Linked DNA regions of Homo sapiens. The protein of the gene in region 1 purifies or fractionates together with the protein of each later gene. This does not show direct contact. Each region holds a gene or a part of one and is shown in the gene's direction. Other genes may lie near its edges.

The links.
Region 2: the proteins of FBP1 (region 1) and FAM120A purify together in Homo sapiens (affinity purification with mass spectrometry, with the first as the bait; one large-scale study listed by BioGRID). This does not show direct contact.
Region 3: the proteins of FBP1 (region 1) and FLG2 purify together in Homo sapiens (affinity purification with mass spectrometry, with the first as the bait; one large-scale study listed by BioGRID). This does not show direct contact.
Region 4: the proteins of FBP1 (region 1) and PLEKHA6 purify together in Homo sapiens (affinity purification with mass spectrometry, with the first as the bait; one large-scale study listed by BioGRID). This does not show direct contact.
Region 5: the proteins of FBP1 (region 1) and CNBP purify together in Homo sapiens (affinity purification with mass spectrometry, with the first as the bait; one large-scale study listed by BioGRID). This does not show direct contact.
Region 6: the proteins of FBP1 (region 1) and SPECC1L purify together in Homo sapiens (affinity purification with mass spectrometry, with the first as the bait; one large-scale study listed by BioGRID). This does not show direct contact.
Region 7: the proteins of FBP1 (region 1) and ARPC4 purify together in Homo sapiens (affinity purification with mass spectrometry, with the first as the bait; one large-scale study listed by BioGRID). This does not show direct contact.

What each region holds. Positions count from the first base shown.
Region 1 is NC_000009.12:94,605,576-94,608,518, reverse strand, and holds part of FBP1 (fructose-1,6-bisphosphatase 1), read left to right. Parts: intron 1-1,566; coding exon 1,567-1,704; intron 1,705-2,942; coding exon 2,943-2,943. UniProt on the Homo sapiens protein: Catalyzes the hydrolysis of fructose 1,6-bisphosphate to fructose 6-phosphate in the presence of divalent cations, acting as a rate-limiting enzyme in gluconeogenesis. Plays a role in regulating glucose sensing and insulin secretion of pancreatic beta-cells.
Region 2 is NC_000009.12:93,563,149-93,566,612, forward strand, and holds the end of FAM120A (constitutive coactivator of PPAR-gamma-like protein 1), read left to right. Parts: exon of another isoform or gene 1-415; intron 416-1,080; coding exon 1,081-1,392; 3' UTR 1,393-2,964; downstream 2,965-3,464. UniProt on the Homo sapiens protein: Component of the oxidative stress-induced survival signaling. May regulate the activation of SRC family protein kinases. May act as a scaffolding protein enabling SRC family protein kinases to phosphorylate and activate PI3-kinase.
Region 3 is NC_000001.11:152,350,007-152,353,506, reverse strand, and holds part of FLG2 (filaggrin-2), read left to right. Parts: coding exon 1-2,897; 3' UTR 2,898-3,500. UniProt on the Homo sapiens protein: Essential for normal cell-cell adhesion in the cornified cell layers. Important for proper integrity and mechanical strength of the stratum corneum of the epidermis.
Region 4 is NC_000001.11:204,227,430-204,230,929, reverse strand, and holds part of PLEKHA6 (pleckstrin homology domain-containing family A member 6), read left to right. Parts: intron 1-340; coding exon of another isoform or gene 341-343; coding exon 344-517; intron 518-1,825; coding exon 1,826-1,993; intron 1,994-2,068; coding exon 2,069-2,202; intron 2,203-2,701; coding exon 2,702-2,847; intron 2,848-3,500.
Region 5 is NC_000003.12:129,181,097-129,185,095, reverse strand, and holds the start of CNBP (CCHC-type zinc finger nucleic acid binding protein), read left to right. Parts: upstream 1-1,199; 5' UTR 1,200-1,320; intron 1,321-3,999. UniProt on the Homo sapiens protein: Single-stranded DNA-binding protein that preferentially binds to the sterol regulatory element (SRE) sequence 5'-GTGCGGTG-3', and thereby mediates transcriptional repression. Has a role as transactivator of the Myc promoter.
Region 6 is NC_000022.11:24,319,331-24,322,830, forward strand, and holds part of SPECC1L (cytospin-A), read left to right. Parts: intron 1-1,957; coding exon 1,958-3,500. UniProt on the Homo sapiens protein: Involved in cytokinesis and spindle organization. May play a role in actin cytoskeleton organization and microtubule stabilization and hence required for proper cell adhesion and migration.
Region 7 is NC_000003.12:9,805,342-9,807,601, forward strand, and holds the end of ARPC4 (actin-related protein 2/3 complex subunit 4), read left to right. Parts: intron 1-868; coding exon 869-874; 3' UTR 875-1,760; downstream 1,761-2,260. UniProt on the Homo sapiens protein: Actin-binding component of the Arp2/3 complex, a multiprotein complex that mediates actin polymerization upon stimulation by nucleation-promoting factor (NPF).

The sequences.
Region 1 (2,943 bases):
CGGGCCCTGACTGCTTCCCATTCTTCTGGTGCCTTCTCTTGTTACCTTTGAGTTGGTGGAAGCAGAGAAAACATTCAATCCCTTCTTGTTTCCAGATTGCAGGGGAGCATCCCTGTAGGGAAGCTTCTGTGTGTTTGATAGTCTTTTGCCCTCCTCAGTCCTGAATGTTTGGAAGCGCAATGCAGGGCTGCTGGGATTTGATTCCAGCCCTTCTGTCTGCGGTGCCTGACGGGGCTGAGCCTCCCGCCAGGGAGGTGCTAAGTGCTTCCTCTTTGTTTGCGCTTGCTGCAAAGCCAGGCTGACGGTTTCTGCTGAAAACACTGCTACAGCTGTACTCGGGTTTCCAGCGGCTTCAACTTTCTGGGAGCTTTTATGTTTTGTCTCTGTACACAGACTTTCCTCCTTTGCACCATGGACAGTCTGGCTGGGCCCTGCGCTCTGCACCCAGCAACTGTTGTGAGATGGCTTTCTTTTCTATATAGTTTTTTGAAAGACATTTATTTATTTATTTTTCTACCAACGATAAAAGAATATTCCGGTATACTTGTGGTCAAAAATTTTGAAAATATTAAAAAAGGCATAAAAGTAAGAAAGAAGAATCACTTCCAGTGACACCTTTCAATGGCCACTGTGAATTCTCCCCTCCCTTTCTCCCTGTCTGTCTGGTTTCAACGTATTCCATATGGGTAGGAACCAATTTCTGCTGTGGAATAAATGGCTAGGTAGAGAGGTGTCGGTGGGCCTTTTTTCTTTTCAACTCTTGTGTCAACGTCAAGCCCCTCCTAAATGGGCAGAGCCTCGATCACCCTCTTGCCAAAAACACACAGGAACCCATAACAATCCTCAATCCGGAGCAATAGGACTTCTGCAACACTTTTCCCCCAAATTCAAATCTCCTTTGAAGAGCCTAAAGCTTAAAGGCATAAGCTTAACCCTGGGCTATGTGGGAAGAGGCAGTCTGAGAAAAACTTCACACGCCAGCGAGCAAAGGCCATCGGAAGTTACGTACGCCAGACTCAAAACTCAGGGTTCTACTTTGTTCTATAAGAACGCCCAGAAAGGAGAACTCCCATCAAGGTAGAAATGTAAAGCCGAGAACAGCGCTGAGCACTTGGGTGTAACTCAGGGACTGATCCTGCGGTGGCCCGTCTCTCCTGAGAGCCCACCTCCCGCCTGAACCAACCCTTTTTTCTGTTTGGTAAAGGCATACACATCTTATATTGCTTTGGACACACGGTTCTTACTCTCTTGCAGGCTTAGCAGTTGTTTCACAAGTCTGCTCTCCCTATTTTTGTGTGGTTTCTTTCTTGTTTGACTGAAATCATATGCAAACAAAGTCGAAAGTGTCTGTTATCACCCTGATGGCTTCTGCAGCATTGTCTTGCTTCCCCTCACCCCATTCACAGTTCCCAGAGAGCCTGGCAGGTGTCTCGGGGCCCCAAGATGAGTGGTGCCCGTGCGCCGCGACCCCAGCCCAGCGTAGCCCAGCCCATCGCTCGCCTCATCCAGGCCTGGGGGACCCAGTGCGCTCGTCATCTCTCCACCTTTCCTTCCTTGTCTAAAAAGGCCATCGGGGAGTTCATTTTGGTGGACAAGGATGTGAAGATAAAAAAGAAAGGTAAAATCTACAGCCTTAACGAGGGCTACGCCAGGGACTTTGACCCTGCCGTCACTGAGTACATCCAGAGGAAGAAGTTCCCCCCAGTAAGTGAGGGCCCGGGGAGGGTGGTGCAGGTTCTGGGCATCTGGCACCAGAGGCCGTTCTGGAGGCAGGGGCATCCCCCGGAGATGAAAGGGATCCTTGGGATCGAGGGCCTTGGGCCTCATGTGGGGCTCCTGAGCAGTGTGGAAATCTATTGGTTGATGACTTACCCTAAAGGTGAAAGGAAGCAGGGATGGAGTGGATTGGGCTTCCGTCTACACTGAGCCCACGATGAAGTTCTCACCTCAGTACTGGAGACTGGAATTCTCACCCTGAGACATCAAAAATCAGTCTCCATGTCAGCCTTTGCTACTTTCTCTTGGCAGAAGAAAATTAGGATAATAAAGTTAAACAAATGAATGAATTCATGGCAGTAAAACATCTTCCCTTCTGGGGTCCATGGTCCCAGATGGGATGAAATGTGGTTCCCCCACTCAAATGCCCGTCAAGTGGTGTCTGCCCCTTGCTAGGCCTGCCTGAGGTGCATCTATCAGTTATCTCGAGACCGAGAGTGCCCATCGTGACATCTCCCTAAAGAGGTTACAAGCTAGTGAATATGAAGAGAAGAAATGGCTGTGTGGAGCTTGCTCTATATGGAATATCTGATTTTGTCCTTTCTTTGTTTAAAAGCCATCGATGGCTGCTGTTTGCTAGAGATGAAGCTCAAATGTTTGCAGGACGTTCAAGGAGGCCTCAGATCTGCCCCAGGCTTTCTCTCCAGCTTACTCATCTCTCCTTTCACCTTATCCTGGATTCCCCTCCTGCCCCCAAGCTCCGCACACGCACACCCGAGTCCCACAGGCTCCTCCTCCAGGACCATATCCCTCTCCACATTGCTAAGCAGACACTTGTGCAGTTTCCTCTCCTGTAAATTACACACTGCCTCCCACCCCTGCCCGGTTCCTTAGCTTGGTAACAAACTTTCTCAGCCTTTAAGGTGTTACTAAATGGTACAGTTTCTGTAATGCCTGCCTCAGCCCCATAACCAGAATCAACCATACCCTCGTTGGGGCTTCTGTGGGCAATCTGACCTATTGTGAGATGATGAGAGGCTGTCTCCATTTTTCCATTTTCTATTTATTGGGAACAGGATTCTCATCACATTTTTTAGCACAGCCCCAAATACATACCTTGTAGGTGCTCGGTGAATGGATGTGGAATCAAAGAAACTTAGGAGACACCAAGAAAACTCTCTTTCTTATTTTCTGCAATCCTAATTCTTGCTGGTCTTAACTTGCAGG
Region 2 (3,464 bases), 1.0 Mb from region 1:
GTCACATCTCCATCTGGGTTGATGATTTTGTCATCAACAAGGCAAATACCCTGGTTTTCAGAATGGGAGGCCTAGAAGATGCTGGAAGGTACCACCATCTTTGTTGGGAAGGGAATGCGATGACGAGCTGGAAGGTTCCTGTTCTCGTCTGTAAAATGACTGTTTGAAGGTGAAAAACATCCATGTTTTCTTCAGCACCGAGTCAGTCTATGACAGTGGCTCTCAGCCCTGGTGATTGGCCCCCAAGGGACATTTGGAGACGTTGATTGTCAAGACTTGGTGTGGGCACTGGATTTTAATGGGTGAAGCCTAGACATTTTAACGGGTGAAGACAACATGATGTTTGTGCTGCTAAACACCCTACGGTGTGTGGGACAGCCCCATCACGGAGAGTGGACAGAGCCAGCGTATCATATGCTAAGGTTGAGGAGCCCTGGTCTAATGATAGGAGCAATTCAAGATCTGTCTTCACTGCCTTCACAGAGAGCCATGTCTTTCAGAAAATGTGCTGGATTAGTCTCAAGGACCATTTTTTTCAGAGGCTTATTTTTAAATCTGTTCAGAGGAGTGGGGAAGACCCATTCAGAAGAGTTATTTCACAAACACGTGGCAATTATCAGTGCAGATTTCTTGTTAAGGTTCCCTAGCAATGACTGTATTTCCCCAGTAGAAATGGGGTGTGTGTGCTGCTGCACATCACAGGCAGATGTGGGAGACCCTGTTTGTTTTGTGGCAGTGGGAACAGTCGCAATTTTAGAGAGGACTTATTGAGGGGCATTTGTTACTTTAAACAATTTAGTGCCATACAAAGGATTAGACAGAGCTCCTGAAGGGGGAATCTCCCTCATTTTCAGGGTGTTAACTACAGAGGAGTTGAGGGAAGGGGCCATGGAGGGAACTGACTGAGACAGGTAGAGCATCTACCGCCCAAAAGTCAAAGCAAAGACAGGGTTAGAAGGACCCAGCTGGGCATTTTCTGCTCTTGAATCTGCAGAGAGTGTCATTAGGCCAAAATTGGCATCCTCTCTCTTCTGTTTATCAGAAACCACCTTCTCATTTGTTGTCCTTCATTTTAAACAGGGCAGACCTCCTTATGCTGCTTCAGCAGAAGAAGTGGCCAAAGAACTTAAGTCAAAATCTGGGGAATCGAAGTCCTCTGCTATGTCTTCAGACGGGTCCCTGGCTGAAAACGGAGTGATGGCCGAGGAGAAGCCGGCTCCCCAGATGAACGGGAGCACGGGTGACGCCAGGGCCCCCAGCCACTCTGAAAGTGCCTTGAATAATGACTCTAAAACGTGCAATACAAATCCTCATTTAAATGCACTAAGTACAGACAGCGCTTGCCGCAGAGAAGCTGCTCTGGAGGCAGCTGTCTTAAATAAAGAAGAGTAAACTTATTTTTTATAGAGGGTGAAGGATGCTGGAAGGGTAAGGATTTAGGAATATCTGGAGAGAAAGAGAGCCTGCAGTTATGTACATTTTGTCCTTTCCGTAAGAGAAAAATGAGGACTTTGGAAATTCAGATCCCTCTTTGATATCAGAGATTTAAACAACACATTTTTAGTTTTAACCAGTTGTAGTCAAAATGCTACAATAAAACAAAAAAGAGAAAGAAAATGAAGAGCATTTGACTCCCGCACTTAAAATGAAGTACACATAAAGTTTAAACTGGTTATGACAAAAGCCTTTAGTTGTGTTTCTTGAACTATAAAGAAAACAAATTTTGGCAGTCTTTAAGTATATATAGCTTAAAATATAATTTTTAGCATTTGGCACCATATGTATGCCATTATATTTGATTTTGCATTACTGTTTCACAATGAAGCTTTCTTTAAGGCTTTGATTTTTATGATTATGAAAGAAATAAGGCACAACCACAGTTTTTCTTTCTTAAATTTCATCACTGTTGATGTGGTTCTTTTGTGTTAAAAAAAAAAAGTGCAACTATCAAAACTAAAAAATTATAGAGTAATATTGCCGTTCTGCTGATTTTAAATATACAATACATCATACATACTTTACAAGCAAGTTAAATGGAGATAAAGTTGAAATCATAGAAGATGCAAATGACCTTTCAAAATCAACACAATGTGTTCTGAAACTTTCGTGACTAATACCATGCATCTGTGATCAATGAACTATGTGGTTTTGAATCGGATGTAGACCATTAGTACTACTACTTGAGCTAAACTTCTGCATGGTTCATAATTTTTAAAGTGTGTAGTTAATATGCATGTTATCGTCCTTTCTTCCATTCTTAACAGTATGTGCCCATTTGCAAAACAAAAATGCTAATAATCAGTAATAGTCCTATAAAAGATGTTAACTCTGTTTAGTCATTGACTGATCTTGCTCTAACCTTAAAATTTTGTGATTATTGACCTCTGTTGCATTTATTCTAAAGCCCCCCAAAAATTATCTAGCCGTTTCGAATATCAACATTACCCTGGTGTATTCACTGCTGTATGCATTATTGTTCTTTGTTGCTGTTTTATGCCTTCATATTAGCAAATATGAAATTCTGTGAAAAAAAACCCTTTGATCTTAAAAAAAAAAAAACCACCCCCCCCTTCTGTAGCAGGAAACAAATTGCTTGTTCTTGAGAACTTTCCCATCAAGAATTTAGTAGAAGCAGGTATACTTCTATCATTTTGATGTTTTTGTTAATGTTTCCAAACAATGTACTTTGAAATCAGAATCACTTCTTATCGTTTTCATATACTTCTGATGCTCTTCATCACATTAGTGATCAGAAATGAGGTGTAATTCCCCAACCCCTGCCCGCAAGAGCTAAGTAGGATCTTACTGTAAGTTGAAGGGAGTTTTGCCCTAACTCATGGATTGTGCAAGAATGAACTGCTGTTGGGTTTGATTGACTGTCGATGGATTGTGGTGTGGTGTATCTGAAGGCTATTGAATGCAACTTACAATGCTTAATAAAAATCTTTATTCTTTTAGTATAAAGTATGGCGTGGCTTTTAAATTCACTTGTAAAAGCTAATTTTATAGAGGTTTAATTCAAATCGAAACAACTACTGAAAAGATCAGAAAACCAAAGTTGAAAAATATTTTACCTTTTCAAAGTAATTCCAGGTTTCCGGCTTAGAGGGACATTAATATATGATTAATTTGTTTGATAGCTCAGTTTCAAGCAACCAAGGGGATAAAAAAATTCTGTTTGATAAAGCAGACTTACAGAAGAGGTTTTTTTAAGCCCTGAGGAAGCAATAAATTTGACTCCACCACGTTTTAAAAGCTGGATGTTACAAGTATAGTCCGTTTTTCATGCCATCCTTTTGACTGAAGGCTCTTCTCTGCAGCCTGATATGAGGTCCCCGTACCCAGGTCCGCCGAGCGCCTGGAGAAAGCGCCCCGTGCTGCCCTCTAGCGGGGGATGGTGGGCTAACGGCGCCGGAGGCGGCCAGGAGAGCTGCGGCGATCCCGCTCCAGGGAGGGGCTGGCGC
Region 3 (3,500 bases), on another chromosome or scaffold:
CCAGTGACAGTGAAGTGCACTCAGGGGGCTCACACAGACCACAATCACAAGAACAAACTCATGGCCAAGCCGGATCTCAACATGGAGAGTCAGGATCCACAGTTCATGGGAGACACGGAACTACTCATGGACAGACAGGAGATACCACTAGACATGCCCACTATCATCATGGAAAATCCACACAGAGAGGGTCCAGTACAACTGGAAGAAGGGGATCTGGCCACAGTGAGTCCAGTGACAGTGAAGTGCACTCAGGGGGCTCGCACACACATTCAGGACACACTCACGGCCAAAGTGGATCTCAACATGGAGAGTCAGAATCCATAATTCATGACAGACACAGAATTACTCATGGACAGACAGGAGATACCACTAGACATTCCTACTCTGGTCATGAACAAACCACACAGACAGGGTCCAGGACAACTGGAAGACAGAGAACTAGCCACAGTGAGTCCACTGACAGTGAAGTGCACTCAGGGGGCTCACACAGACCACACTCACGAGAACACACTTACGGCCAAGCCGGATCTCAACATGAAGAGCCAGAATTCACAGTTCATGAGAGACACGGAACTACTCATGGACAGATAGGAGATACCACTGGACATTCCCACTCTGGTCATGGACAGTCCACACAGAGAGGGTCCAGGACAACTGGAAGACAGAGATCTAGCCACAGTGAGTCCAGTGACAGTGAAGTGCACTCAGGGGTCTCACACACACATACAGGACACACTCATGGTCAAGCTGGATCTCAACATGGACAGTCAGAATCCATAGTTCCTGAGAGACATGGAACTACTCATGGACAGACAGGAGATACCACTAGACATGCCCACTATCATCATGGATTAACCACACAGACAGGGTCCAGGACTACTGGAAGAAGGGGATCTGGCCACAGTGAGTACAGTGACAGTGAAGGGTACTCAGGAGTCTCACATACACATTCAGGACACACTCATGGCCAAGCCAGATCTCAACATGGAGAGTCAGAATCCATAGTTCATGAGAGACATGGAACTATACATGGACAGACAGGCGATACCACCAGACATGCCCACTCTGGTCATGGACAGTCCACACAGACAGGGTCCAGGACCACTGGAAGAAGGTCATCTGGCCACAGTGAGTACAGTGACAGTGAAGGGCACTCAGGGTTCTCACAAAGACCACACTCACGAGGACACACTCACGGCCAGGCTGGATCTCAACATGGAGAGTCAGAATCCATAGTTGACGAGAGACATGGAACTACTCATGGACAGACAGGAGATACCAGTGGACATTCTCAATCTGGTCATGGACAGTCCACACAGTCAGGATCCAGTACAACTGGAAGAAGGAGATCTGGCCACAGTGAGTCCAGTGACAGTGAAGTGCACTCAGGGGGCTCACATACACATTCAGGACACACACACAGCCAAGCCAGGTCTCAACATGGAGAGTCAGAATCCACAGTTCACAAGAGACACCAAACTACTCATGGACAGACAGGAGATACCACTGAACATGGCCACCCTAGTCATGGACAAACCATACAGACAGGGTCCAGGACAACTGGAAGAAGGGGATCTGGCCACAGTGAGTACAGTGACAGTGAAGGGCCCTCAGGGGTCTCACACACACATTCAGGACACACTCACGGTCAAGCTGGATCTCACTATCCAGAGTCAGGATCCTCAGTTCATGAGAGACACGGAACTACTCATGGACAAACAGCAGATACCACTAGACATGGCCACTCTGGTCATGGACAGTCCACACAGAGAGGGTCCAGGACAACTGGAAGAAGGGCATCTGGCCACAGTGAGTACAGTGACAGTGAAGGGCACTCAGGGGTCTCACACACACATTCAGGACACGCTCATGGCCAAGCCGGATCTCAACATGGAGAGTCAGGATCCTCAGTTCATGAGAGACACGGAACTACTCATGGACAGACAGGAGATACCACTAGACATGCTCACTCTGGTCATGGACAGTCCACACAGAGAGGGTCAAGGACAGCTGGAAGAAGGGGATCTGGCCACAGTGAGTCCAGTGACAGTGAAGTGCACTCAGGGGTCTCACACACACATTCAGGACACACTTATGGCCAAGCCAGATCTCAACATGGAGAGTCAGGATCTGCCATTCACGGGAGACAGGGAACTATACATGGACAGACAGGAGATACCACTAGACATGGCCAGTCTGGTCATGGACAGTCCACACAGACAGGTTCCAGGACAACTGGAAGACAAAGATCTAGTCACAGTGAGTCCAGTGATAGTGAAGTGCACTCAGAGGCCTCACCCACACATTCAGGACACACTCACAGCCAAGCCGGATCTCGACATGGACAGTCAGGATCCTCAGGTCATGGGAGACAGGGAACTACTCATGGACAGACAGGAGATACCACTAGACATGCCCACTATGGTTATGGACAATCCACACAGAGAGGGTCCAGGACAACTGGAAGAAGGGGATCTGGCCACAGTGAGTCCAGTGACAGTGAAGTGCACTCATGGGGCTCACACACACATTCAGGACACATTCAGGGCCAAGCTGGATCTCAACAAAGACAGCCAGGATCCACAGTTCATGGGAGACTGGAAACTACTCATGGACAGACAGGAGATACCACTAGACATGGCCATTCTGGTTATGGACAATCCACACAGACAGGTTCCAGATCTAGTAGAGCAAGTCATTTTCAGTCACATAGTAGTGAAAGGCAAAGGCATGGATCAAGTCAGGTTTGGAAACATGGCAGCTATGGACCTGCAGAATATGACTATGGGCACACTGGGTATGGGCCTTCTGGTGGCAGCAGAAAAAGCATCAGTAATTCTCACCTTTCATGGTCAACAGACAGCACTGCAAACAAGCAACTGTCTAGACATTGACAGTTATTTTCTAGTTCTGACCTTATAGTATCCAAAGCAACTAAAAGAACAGGAAGACACAGTTTAAATCATGAACAGTCAATGGTAAGTTATGAACATTCAGTTGATTCTCAGTATCAGTCTCGACCTATTATTATAAGAAGTCAGGAATCTAGTCATGGACATTCTATAGTAACTCATAAACAGTCAAACAACACCTATGTTCAACCTGGATATAACACAGCCAGAAGGGAGGGATGTACACATAGCCAGTCAAATGACCACCTTGGATTTGGCCATGGACAATCCATATCAGTTCATGGCCATTCAAAATCTAGTTCAATCAGAAAACAGGAATCCCATACTGATAACAAAAAGCATTCAGAAGATTGGGAGAAAGACACTCATGAGCAATTAGGATCTAGGCATGGGAAGTTAGAGTTCAATACAATAGGTATACATGGATCTAGCCAGCAACATTTCGGAGATACAACTTTTCATGGGCAGGTAAGATCCAGCACAGGTTTTGCCAGATAGGTATTAAGTCATGGGCCATCAAGAGATGCCTAGGGTCAGTCTGGATTCAGTACCAATGAAAGACAAGTATACAGCCATGGCCAATCA
Region 4 (3,500 bases), on another chromosome or scaffold:
TATTGCTGGCAATCCTTGGCATTCCTTTCTGAGTAAATGAACCACTCCGATCTCTGCCTCCCTCTTCATGTCACCTCTACTCTGTATGTCATCTTCTTTTCTGTCTCTTATGAGGACACACCATTGGATTTAGGGCCCACTCTAATTCAGGGTGATCTCATATTTCTAAATAAGGTTACACTCTCAGATACCTGGGGTTGGGACTTGGACATATCTTTTGGGGACCACTCTTCAGTCCACTACAGGCAGACTTCCCGTAGAAGGTAAATGTTAAGGGTTCAGGATGGAAAAGCTGGGTGGGGGATAAGGCACTTGTCAGAGCCCTGTTTTCCCATGGCAGCAGGAACGCCCCAAGAGTGCTGTGTTTCCTGGCGAGGGGAAGGTCAAGATGAGCGTGGAGGAGCAGATTGACCGAATGCGGCGGCACCAGAGTGGCTCCATGAGGGAGAAGCGGAGGAGCCTGCAGCTCCCGGCCAGCCCGGCCCCCGACCCCAGTCCCCGGCCAGCCTACAAAGTGGTAATGCCTTCCCAGCTACCCACAGGCGTGAGCCTGGCATCTGCCAACACTGCCCACTCCCAGGGCATGGCCAGCTTGGGCCTGGGGGGTTTGAGAGGAAGGAGAGGGGAAAGAACCCAAGCTGGGCACCTGGGAGAGCCGGAGAGTCCTCTCCCCCATCGGCAGAAGAGTCCTTCAAGTGTTGACTTTTTCTTGTTTAAAGAAAATAACTCACAAAAAGGAATGCCTTAATTATGTTTGTTGAAATGAATTATACAAAATTCACTTAATAGAGAATAGTACAGAATTCACCACACAGAAATAGCTGTCACTTACACCCATTTCTGGAGCATCTCCTCTGTGCCTAGCACTGGGCTGGCTGCGATGAAGATAATCATAATAGCTCACCATTGCATGGCACAGTATAATCCACAAATCCCTTTCATGTTATTTCATTTAATCCTTTTAACAACATTGGGTTAGGAATTATTATCCCTATTTTGCAGATGGGGAAACAAAGTCAAGAGAAATTAAAGGATTCCTGGGCTACACAGCTATTAAGTACAGAGCTGGATGTAGCCCAAGACATCACTTAAATTTTCTTTCCATTAAATTTTAGAAATATGGAAAAATTATGACTCATAAGTCCTGTCCTCAACAGCTTACATTCTAGTTGATGGATTAGAACTTCTATAATATGAAATCACTGGAAGTTAGCCGGGTGTGGTTGGCTCCTCATGCATGTAATCCTAGCACTTTGGGAGGCCAAGGTGGGAAGATTGTTTGAGACCAGGAGTCTGAGACCAGCCTGACAACAAAGCAAGACCCTATCTCTATAAAAACATGTTTAACAAGTAGCTGGGCATGGTGGATTCACCTATAGTCCCAGCTACTTGGGAGGAGGCTGGGATGGGAGGACTCGAGGCCAGGAGTTGGAGACTGCAGTGAGCTATGATTCTGTGACTGTACTCCAGCTAGAGTGACAGCAAGACACTGTTTCTTAAAAAATAAAAAGAAGAAATCAATACAAGTCACACTAATTCAGCTGCCCAAAATATGTAGCACAGAATGAGAATACAGGGTAGAGCAGGATGGGGAACAGCAAGAACTGACAAGAGATGATGAGATGTTGCCCCTGGGGCCTAGCAGGTGGGCAGGCTTTGGGCCAGCAGAAAGGAAGGAAGATAGTTCTGCAGTGGGGTATGGTGGGAGCAGTGGGGTGGCAGCTAGATCAGGCGAGCTGGGAAGGGAAAGCGAGGACAGGGCATAGCTAGAGCTGCCTGGAGGCATGGGTAGCCATGGTGCAATCACGATGCTGCTGTCCCCTAGGTGCGCCGCCACCGCAGCATCCATGAGGTAGACATCTCCAACCTGGAGGCAGCCCTGCGGGCAGAGGAGCCTGGCGGGCATGCCTACGAGACACCCCGGGAGGAAATTGCCCGGCTTCGCAAAATGGAGCTAGAGCCCCAGCATTATGACGTGGACATCAATAAGGAGGTGAGTGGAGCCAGGAAGGGCTGTAGTGGGAGACTCTGGGAAGGGACAGAGGTGGTGACCCCAGCCCCTCCATAGCTCTCCACTCCAGACAAAGTCCTCATCCCTGAACGGTACATTGACCTGGAGCCTGACACTCCCCTGAGCCCTGAGGAGTTGAAGGAGAAGCAGAAGAAGGTGGAGAGGATCAAGACACTCATTGCCAAATCCAGGTAACCAGCCTGGGTGAGCCTCTACTTCCTCTGCTCACCCTGGCACCTAGGACACCTGGGCCACTAGAAGTCGTTGGGGGCACAGAGCCTCCCCAGGGGAGAGCACATCGAGGTGGTGACTCCAGGCAGCAGACAGGGCCCAGCTACCGGCAGAGGCAAGGATGCTGCTGTCAGGTGCTACTAAGACCTGCCAGGCTCGTGCACACCACACCATCGAGACAAAACTGAAGGCTCGCCCTCTGGTGACTTCTTTTCCCCTTCAAGGCTGCCCTAAATGCTCACTTGAACCTTTTAATTCATTTGAGAACATTGAAGGTAGGGGTCCCAACCTGTGTTTTGCCAGGGTCCCACTCACTCCTAGGGACAGCCTTGCTGGGAACCAGAGACTGCACATTCACGGGGCCCTGGCCCTCCCTGCCAACCTCAGTCCGCAGGCCCCCTCAAGCCACTTGGACCATCCTGTCCCTCCCTCCATTTCTGTGTGTCTGTGCCTCTTCAGTATGCAGAACGTGGTGCCCATCGGCGAGGGGGACTCTGTGGACGTGCCCCAGGACTCAGAGAGCCAGCTGCAGGAGCAGGAGAAGCGGATTGAAATCTCCTGCGCCCTGGCGACCGAGGCCTCCCGCAGGGGCCGCATGCTGTCTGGTGAGAGGGGCTGGGCCTCGCTCCACCCTGCCAGGGAAACCAGCTGACCAGGTTTAAGGGAGGAAGCGTGGCACTGCTACAAGGGGGGCAGTAGCAAAGAGATACAAGGCTGAGGAGATGCTCCTCGAGGTTGAGACGAGCATCTGTTGAGCACCAGGTACTGTGCTAGGCTCAGGGAGGTGCAAAGGGGCCAGAGTTGCTGCATCCAGGAGCTCAGAGCCGGGATGATCCTTACAGCCACCTTAGGGAGTAATGGCCAGAGGCCATGCAGAGCATGGGGAGCCATTCTGCTTGGGCAGGTCAGGGAAAGGCACAGAGAAAAGATGACAGCTGAGTTTGACTGAGAAAGATAAAAATATTTCTCAGTTGCAGGGAGAGGGCCAGGTATTCCAGAGTATCCTTTCATTTCCTGCTTTTGCTGCATGCAAATAGGAAGAAGCCAAGAAAAGATAGTGAGGGCAACCAAAGAGTTGAGAGCGATGCAATTACCACCTTGGCTACTGATCCAACTCACTTTTCTGCTAAGAAAAGATAACTATGAGGAACTGACTTCACGCTGATACAAAGGCTACCAGGTCCTGACTAGATGCTGATAGGGCTGAGATCAACAGGGTCAGCTTCTACTCAGCCTGAGATATCATCCCAGAATAGAT
Region 5 (3,999 bases), on another chromosome or scaffold:
AAAATATCATTGGTCTTTAAAGTTATACATTCATTCTTTGATAATTGCTATGTTGAACGCAACCTCCTAACTGCTTTACAATGATTAAGCACTAATGATTTGAACCCAGGTTTAAAGTCTGACTCTCAACACATGTGCTCTGCCTTCTCACGAACATGATTTCAAAAATCATAGCCCCGGGATTTGGGATTGGTGGCTTATGCCTGTAAACCCAGCGACAGAGCAAGACCCTACTCTTAAAAAAAAAAAAAATTAAAGAAAAAAAGAAAAATAAATCATAGTGTTGAACTGGCAGGTTTCACTGAGACGAAACTTGGGACTCTTCCTTTTTTTTTGTTTCGAATAAAGCCATTCTAGAATGAGACAAAATTCTAAAATATTTTATAGTTAACAGTTTAAATTGGGTTTAATCTTGACAAGACTATCTAGGGCTATATACACAAATCTCTTTTGGAGAAAATACCACAACTAAACTGAAGTCTATTCCTGAATATGACAGACCAGGTCAAATGGTTATCCTTGCCCTCCCGGGGGATGTCACTCATAAACGTGCCAAAAGTCACAGTCTAGGCCCCATTACCTTACATGCTCATGACCTTCCCAGGGAGGCCCCTCGCCCTTACCAGGCACTTTCATCTTGGGAAGACACATCAGTCCTGGCGGAGAAAGCAGCAAGGCCTTTCCCCGGCTCACAAAAATTAATACAAATCTCAGAGGCTGCATCCCACAGCCGTGACCACCGTGACTTGGCATCCCCTTTTCTGCAAACTTAAATGTTATCTAGAAATCGGGCCTGGCTCTGAAAGCCAAGGGCCTGGCAGGAGCCCGAGAAAGGGGAGAAACTTTCTGCGGCCCCAAGCTAATGGCAGTCACTGCACCGAGACCCGTCCCCTGGCATCCCTTTGCTCCAGCTGGCCAAGACAGACCACCAAGGTCAGCCAGATTTCCACCCAGTCTGGCCGGGCCCGGACCCAGCTGGGAATGAACCGAGAAGCACCGGGACCCGGATCCCGGCGTGAAAGGCCGCGCGCGGGGCACGGCGGGAAAAGACGCTGCGCGCAGAAACACCCGCCCCGCGCCGCGCTCTAGTGGGCGGCCCTGCCGCGGGCGGCTCTGATTGGACTGCCGAACCCCGCGCGCTGATTGGCCGCGTGGGCGAGGCGGAGGAGAGCCGTGCGCAGCGGCGTATGTGGGGCCGTGTGCAGACCCGCGTGTGGCGCAGGCAAGGACCCTCAAAATAAACAGCCTCTACCTTGCGAGCCGTCTTCCCCAGGCCTGCGTCCGAGTCTCCGCCGCTGCGGGCCCGCTCCGACGCGGAAGGTGAGGGCTGGGGGAGGGGCCCGGCGCTGACGGAGCCGCAGTGCGGGTCGGGTCTGTGGCGGACAGAGAGGGTAGGGAGCGGCGAGGTGGCGATGGCGGCCGCACTTTGGCCTGCGCCTCTGCTGCGTCAGGCGGGAAGCTCGGCTGCTGCCGCCGCCTCGGACCCGGGTTTCTGGCGCACCGCTGTCGGACGACACTTCTGTCCTTTCTTCGTCCTGGAAAGCTGGGTCGCCGAGCATGCGGGTCTTTCGGCGCCACGGCCGCACCCCAGGCCGCAGGCTTAGGGCAGAGGAGGCCCGCCCGTGCGCCCTTGGGGCCGAGGCCCTGACGCTTCGAGGGTCGCGGAATGAGGGACCGAGGGTGGATTTGGCGGGAACTCACTGGAAGGAGTCCGTGTGGTGGGGAAAGGCTCCCGGCTGCGGATGAAGGGGGGATGGGGTGGGTATAGTCGTGCAGGCCATGTGCTGGGGTCGTGCGCCTGGCGGGCCATGTGCCAAGGGTTTTGGGGGCCTTAGAAAAGGGTTCTTAGGCCGGGCGCGGTGGCTCACGCCTGTAATCCCAGCACTTTGAGAGTCCCAGGCGGGCGGATCACGAGGTCAGGAGTTCGAGACCAGCCTGACCAATATGGTGAAAGTTGGTCTGTACTAAAAATAAAAAATTAGCCGGGCATGGTGGCGGGCGCATGTAGTCCCAGCAGCTCGGGAGGCTGGACAGGAGAATCGCGTGAACCCCGGAGGCCGAGGTTGTGGTGAGCCGAGATCGCGCCACTACACTCCAGCATGGGCAACAGAGAGAGACTCCGTCTTAAAAAAACAAACAAACAAACAAACAAACAACAACAAAGGGTTCCTGAAGAAGCCTTTGTGTTTGGAGTGGCGAGACTGCTGGAAGACTTGGGAGCTTTTAGAGTTTATACTCCCTATCCTTGATAGTTTTCCGATTCTTGAATTTTTATCGTCATTTAAATACTAAGTTGCTTGTGTTACATTACCATTCCAAAAGGGGCTGATGGGGCTCACATTCCAAGAGTTAACACTATTTAAGTTGCTGGGATCCTTTAAAAGCGCCATTACCAGAAAAAACACGAATTTGTCAAACCTCCAAAACCACAGCAGCGGGCGGTAGTCTGCATCATTTCTTGGATTAATGAAACAGATGTAATTACAAACGAGACACGAAATTCAACTAGCTCCCCTCCATCTAGATTTTTCCATATCGTGAGAACCTGTTTTAGAATGGCATAATGGTCCACATTTGGGTTTAGGTGTTGATTTTATTATGGGTAAGGCTTGTGCTTGTTCCCACATGTTAACCATATGGCCTCAGCCACAGGGCACTTCCAAAGGAAGTGACTGTTTCTGGTCTTGGGGGTCTTGTAAAAAGAGAACATTGCTCAGTAATCGTCTGTGATTTTAGCTAGTGTGTTTCAGGCATTATTCAGAAGGACTCAGGTGAGATAAGCCAAAACTGAATTTGTTTTTTGTCTTTCTCAAAGTGAAGGAGGTCTAATGAATATCCCCATCTTGCTTTTAAATTACATTTTTAAAAGTAGATTTTTCCCCCTTTCCTATTGTTTGACCCAATTTTGGAGTGAAACGTAACCAGTTACTATTTCCATTCGAATTTAAATTAGCAATTTTATGTTATTTGTTTGTTCAAGCAGTATAACTGGAGTGTAGAGCTTTGAGGGTTTCAAAAAGATAAGAGATATAGTACTTATCTCCTGGGCTTCCCCCTCCCCCCTCCTAAATAGTTTTAAATGCTTCTAATGAGTTACTCTGGTTAAGGATAATCAAACACCTGTAAACTGCCAGGATCCTAGGTACATGCTGTTTTTAGTTTGTTGAGCCTGATTCTTGTCTACAAGAGTTCTTTGTGTATTGGAATATAAAAGGAATAATTTATTACATTCCCAAGGGCAGAATTAAAGACTTAAGTTTTTCCGATTTCATCTCTTGATAAGTTTTTCTTTAAAAAAATAACAGTTTGTGTTTTTCTGAGGAACCAAAGGTCCTCTTTTTTTTCATATTGGTAACAGGAGAGGTAATGTATTTCAGATGGTGCAGTCTGTAAAATATTTTGAACCAAATCAGTGGAAGACCAGGGGTTTTTCTTTTTTTTTTTCTGAGACGGAGTCTCACTCTGTCGCCCAAGCTGGAGTGCAGTGGCGCGATCTCGGCTCACTGCGACCTCCGCCTCCCGGATTAAGCGATTCTCCTGCCTCAGCCTCCGAAGTAGCTGGGATTACAGGCGCCCGCCGCCACACCCAGCTAGTTTTTGTATTTTAGTACAGACGGGGTTTCACCATGTTGGCCAGGCTGGTCTCGAACTCCTGACCTTGTGATCCGACTCCCTCGGCCTCTCAAAGTGCTAGGATTACAGGCAGGAGCCACCGCGCCTGGCCAGGTTTTTCTTAAACTGGCATTTGAACATCTGGAACAGGCAGGGAGATGTCTTTTTTAAAGTATAAATGTGTTTTGTTACATGATTTATGACAATTCTACTTGTCTTTTTTTTTTTTTTTTTTTTTTTTTTTGAGACAGAGTCTTTCTCTGTCGGCCAGGCTGGAATGCAGTGGCACAGTCTCGGCTCACAGCAGCCTCCATCTCCCGGGCTCAAGCAATTCTCCTGCCTCAGCCTCCCAAGTAGCTGGGATTACAGGCGTGTGCCACCACGCCC
Region 6 (3,500 bases), on another chromosome or scaffold:
CAAGCAAAGGGGAAGCCCCTTACCATCGGCTGTCATGAGAACTCACTATCACGAGAACAGCGTGAGGGTAACTGCTTCCATGATTAAATTACCTCCCAACAGGTCCCTCCCGAAACACATAGGGATTATGGGAACTACAGTTCAAGATGAGATTTGGGTGGGGACACAGCCAAACCATATCAGTATCCTCTAGATTAATTTTCATAAAATGTACTTTTCCTTACATTTCTTTCCTACTCAGGATCATTTATTGACTTAGTGTGACTCACTGAATTCTGCCTATCTTTTGGGACTCTATATGAACATTCCCCAGCAGCTTCCGTTAACTGTGTGACTGTACTTTTCCTTTCTGTGTGCCATGTTCACTTCTGCTTCCTTTCGTTGTCTGTCTTTTTGCCAGCCTGAATTCCGCATCCTCCTGTATACCTGTTCTGTTAGTGGCTATCTCCCTCTATCTGTGGAGATCATTTGCTCCCTGTTACCTCTACAGCCTGGATCCCACCACCTAATGAACCAGCAGGGTCTTTAAAAATACTTATTGATTAGATGTGGATCTTATTTTTTAACATAAAAATTTGTTATTTCTTAAGTATTTACAGGTATTTAAACATATTCCTGGCCAGGTGCGGTGGCTCACGCCTGTAAGTGCGGTGGCTCACGCCTGTAAATTCAGTGGCTCACGCCTGTAATCCCAGCACGCTGGGAGACCGACGCGGGCAGATCATTTGAGGTCAGGAGTTTGAGACCAGCCTGGCCAACATGGTGAAACCCTATCTCTACTAAAAATACAAAAAAATTAGCCAGGCATGGTGGCACGCTCCTGTAATCCCAGCTACTTGGGAGGCCTAGGAAGGAGAATCGCTTGAACCTGGGAGTCAGAGGTTGCAGTGAGCCGAAATCGCTCCACTGCACTATAGCCTGGGTGATGGTCAAGAGAGACTCCATCTCAAAAAAAACCAAAAAAACGAACAAAAAAAACTTCCTGTTCTTTTTGTATTAAACAAATGATTGTGTCAGTTTTCACAGGTTTAAAATTTTAGTAGTTAAGTAATCATGTGATTCACGTAGATTTGATTGACGCATCATCATTATTTAACATTAGTGCTTCGTTGTTTTTTACATTTAGAGAGACAGTATAACATACTGGTTAAGGTGCAAAATCTGGAACCAGACTGCCTGGGTTTCAATTTTGGCTCATCTATTTATTACCTGTGACATGTTGGCAAATTATTTAACATCTGTGTCTGAGTTTCTTCATCTGTAAAACAAGGTGATAATAGCACCTACCTCACGTCTTTAATGAGGCTTATATAAGTTAATGTATGTGAAGTGTTAATGTATTTGTATAACCAAGTGCTAGGTATGTGTTAGCTATTGTTATAATTGTTATTATTTATGTGGCATTTTATGGTGTTAAAACTATTTTGCATTTACTTTGGTCAGAGTAAAATTTTTGTGTTTCTAGTAGGTAGCTTAGATTTTTGGTTTTCCCAGAGACTGCTTTTCCCTTCTTGCCCACCTATGATCTCCCTTCACTATCTGTGTACAGTTAGTTTACCACCGACTGGCTAATCCTGGAGTCATCTTCACCTGTCTTGCCCTAGAATATTATGCCTCTGGCCAACTGGTTAAAACCCCACTTCTGGATTCAAGTTAATGTATATCATTTAAATAACAGCTTTGTAGAAATGTAATTCACATTCCATAAAATTTACTCTTTTAAAAACATGTAAAACAAAGTGTATAACTTATTTCTCCTTGATAATTAAAAGATGAATGATCTTCTGGTTTTGAAGAAATTGAACTTTAACAGACTCTAAGGCAAGATTATTGTAGATCTAAATCATTGTGTAGATCCTGGATTTCATCTCATTACACCTGGGGCAGGAACTGTGTATTCTATGTAGCCTTTTATTGCTGACATTTTTGCCTTACATTTTTTGTATTAAACACATAGGCACAGCTTCTTCAACCAAGCGGAGCACTTCTACAGGTAATAAAGAATCCAGTTCTACTAGAGAAAGATTACGTGAACGTACCCGATTAAACCAGAGCAAAAAACTACCTTCTGCAGGTCAGGGAGCTAATGACATGGCATTGGCCAAACGTTCCCGCAGTCGAACTGCTACAGAATGTGACGTTCGTATGAGCAAGTCTAAGTCAGACAATCAGATCAGTGACAGAGCTGCTTTGGAGGCCAAAGTGAAGGATCTTCTCACGCTGGCAAAAACCAAAGACGTAGAAATTTTACATTTGAGAAATGAACTGCGAGACATGCGTGCCCAGCTGGGCATTAATGAGGATCATTCTGAGGGTGATGAAAAATCTGAGAAGGAAACTATTATGGCTCACCAGCCGACTGATGTGGAGTCCACTTTATTGCAGTTGCAGGAACAGAATACTGCCATCCGTGAAGAACTCAACCAGCTGAAAAATGAAAACAGAATGTTAAAGGACAGGTTGAATGCATTGGGCTTTTCCCTAGAGCAGAGGTTAGACAATTCTGAAAAACTGTTTGGCTATCAGTCCCTGAGCCCAGAAATCACCCCTGGTAACCAGAGCGATGGAGGAGGAACTCTGACTTCTTCAGTGGAAGGCTCTGCCCCTGGCTCAGTGGAGGATCTCTTGAGTCAGGATGAAAATACACTAATGGACCATCAGCACAGTAACTCCATGGACAATTTAGACAGTGAGTGCAGTGAGGTCTACCAGCCCCTCACATCGAGCGATGATGCGCTGGATGCACCATCCTCCTCAGAGTCGGAAGGCATCCCCAGCATAGAGCGCTCCCGGAAGGGGAGCAGCGGGAATGCCAGTGAAGTGTCCGTGGCTTGCCTGACTGAACGGATACACCAGATGGAAGAGAACCAACACAGTACAAGTGAGGAACTCCAGGCAACCCTGCAAGAGCTAGCTGATTTACAGCAGATTACCCAGGAACTGAATAGTGAAAACGAAAGGCTTGGAGAAGAGAAGGTTATTCTGATGGAGTCTTTATGTCAGCAGAGCGATAAGTTGGAACACTTTAGTCGACAGATTGAATACTTCCGCTCTCTTCTAGATGAGCATCACATTTCTTATGTCATAGATGAAGATGTAAAAAGTGGGCGCTATATGGAATTAGAGCAACGTTACATGGACCTCGCTGAGAATGCCCGTTTTGAACGGGAGCAGCTTCTTGGTGTCCAGCAGCATTTAAGCAATACTTTGAAAATGGCAGAACAAGACAATAAGGAAGCTCAAGAAATGATAGGGGCACTCAAAGAACGCAGTCACCATATGGAGCGAATTATTGAGTCTGAGCAGAAAGGAAAAGCAGCCTTGGCAGCCACGTTAGAGGAATACAAAGCCACAGTGGCCAGTGACCAGATAGAGATGAATCGCCTGAAGGCTCAGCTGGAGAATGAAAAGCAGAAAGTGGCAGAGCTGTATTCTATCCATAACTCTGGAGACAAATCTGATATTCAGGACCTCCTGGAGAGTGTCAGGCTGGACAAAGA
Region 7 (2,260 bases), on another chromosome or scaffold:
CCCTCAGCCAGTAAGAGGAGGAACCAGAATGTGGAGCTGGGTTTTCGGACTCAGAGGTCTAAGAAAGTACCATAGCCTTTGTCAAGGGTCACAAATTCAGGTGCATCCAAAGGTCGGGTAGCTATGGAGTGGGCTGAGTATGGAGTGGGCAGGGTGAGGAGCTGCTGAGCGCATGCCTCATGTGCAGGGGCTGGCTCCCACACAGCTCCAGGCCATTGAACCCCCAAATTTGGATTTGTATATGGCATCTTCCATGTTTTCAAGGTTGGCAACTAATTCATATTGTTTTAAACACCATGTGGGCCATGCAGTGCTCATCTTTGGGCTAGTTTCAGGCATGGGCCATTGGTTCACAACCTTTGGTCTCTAAAATGTGCAGGGCTGTCCTAGGCAGCATGGGGGACCCTTGAGGGCAGAAAACATTTCAAGGGCCTGGCTTGGTTGGAGGTTCATCCAGAGCTTGACACAAAAGTACCAGAACCTGGGTCCTTTTCCACTTGGCCCTCTGAGTCCCCAGGCCCCTTGCATGAGAGCCCCCATGCCTAAAGAAAGCAACCTCAGTTCACCAGGCAGGACGCTGGCAGGGCTTTCTAGCAGCCTCCATGCCAGGGCACAAGGGAGCTGTGGAGAAGCTCTCATGGCTCTTAATTTTTCTGCCTTATCTAGTGCTAGGCTTAGGGCCGGTGCCCATAGGTCACTTCTGAAAGCTGGCTGAATTAGAGCATGACCACAAGGTGTCCTGGGACCCAACTCTGCCCCTCACAGATATGAGCACAGTGGCAGCTCTCAGGTTCATGCACCTCCTTAGAGCAGTGCCACCAGGATGCAATAATAACCACCATGCACTGCCTCTTGGTTCTCTTGACAGTTTTAAACCATCTGGCTGGATCTCGTGGCCTTCCCCCTCAGACTACCCATGTCTCCACGAAGGCGTCCTGGAGTCACTCCCCGAGCAGCGCGGCGGCGGCAGGGAGTTGGGTTGGGGTGGGCATTTGATGCGGGAGGTGGGTGGTGTGCTTGCTAGCTGGGCAAGAAAGCAGCAGTGGACCTGCCCCAAGGCCACACGTGCCTGGTCAGGCTGGCTTCTGATGTTCAGTCCCCTGGGCCGGGACAGATTTTTTTTAACGTCTTGAAACTTAAACTCTGTGCTTGTAGGATACTGTAACCTTTTTGTCTTTTTTTTTTTTTTTTTTTTTAAACCTCCACCTCCAGTGGCTGTGACTGGTCCCAGTGATTATACGTTATTGGTTGCTGTGGGTCTGGGCGGGCCTGGAGCCAGAAGGCGACTTATTTTTTCTCTCCTATGCCACCCCAGGTGGGGAGGGAGGGAGGTTTCAGACTCCAGTTTCTCCCTTGCCCTTTTATTCCCAAGCCTCCTTGGCCCCAGTATAAGTGTTGGGAACTCTCTGCCAGCTTCCTGAGTTCTGCCTAAAGATGGCCCCCCAGCACTGGTTGGGGACAAGGGCCAAATTGGTGACCACCAGTCATGCCTAGGACCTGGGGCCCAAAAGCCGGGCAACCTCTGGCTACAGGGGCCATTGGGTGCCCTCCCAGTTGAGAGGGGCCGCTGTTTCGCCTTGTCCGTCAGTGCCAGTGCCTGTGCCAGAGGTGGCGAGGTGAGTCCTCCAGAGCTTCCTGGCCGGGCCCTCCTCCTGCCTGTTCTGGCTCCTCTGCTCCCACGCTAGCTGTCCCTTTTCTGATTCTGGTGGATCCTCCCTCCCCTAATTAAAGTCTCTTTTTGCCCCTTTGGGGCTGCATGAGGTCTATGCTGTGTGTGTGTGTGAAAGGAGGGGAGGTGGGGCTTCTTTTCCCTGAGACCAGATGGCTGGTAATTGTGCCTGGAGCTCCCCACTGGGTGCAGTCTCATGATTGGTCCTGCCATTATTCCTGCCAGGGGTCCCAACCCAGAGACTCCATTCATTGCAGTCCAGGCACCATTAATTTCTGAAACTGCTCTGTCTGCCTATACAGAGCTTTGGTGCTTTTCACATAAGGAACTTACTTGGGCTAAAAAGTAACCTCAGAGAAACAGTGCTCCCATTTGGTGGATAAGGAAACTGAGGTTCCAAACATGAGATGTAATAGCTTGCCCCAAATCTAGCCAGTGAGCAAGAGAGTAGACTTTTGCCTGTGCCAAAACAGTAATCACCATCCACAAGTGGCTATTTAAATTTTAATTATTACAATTAAATAAAGTTTAAAATCCAGTTCCCCAGTCCCACTGGCAACTTAACAGCTACCAGTGACTGTACCATATATA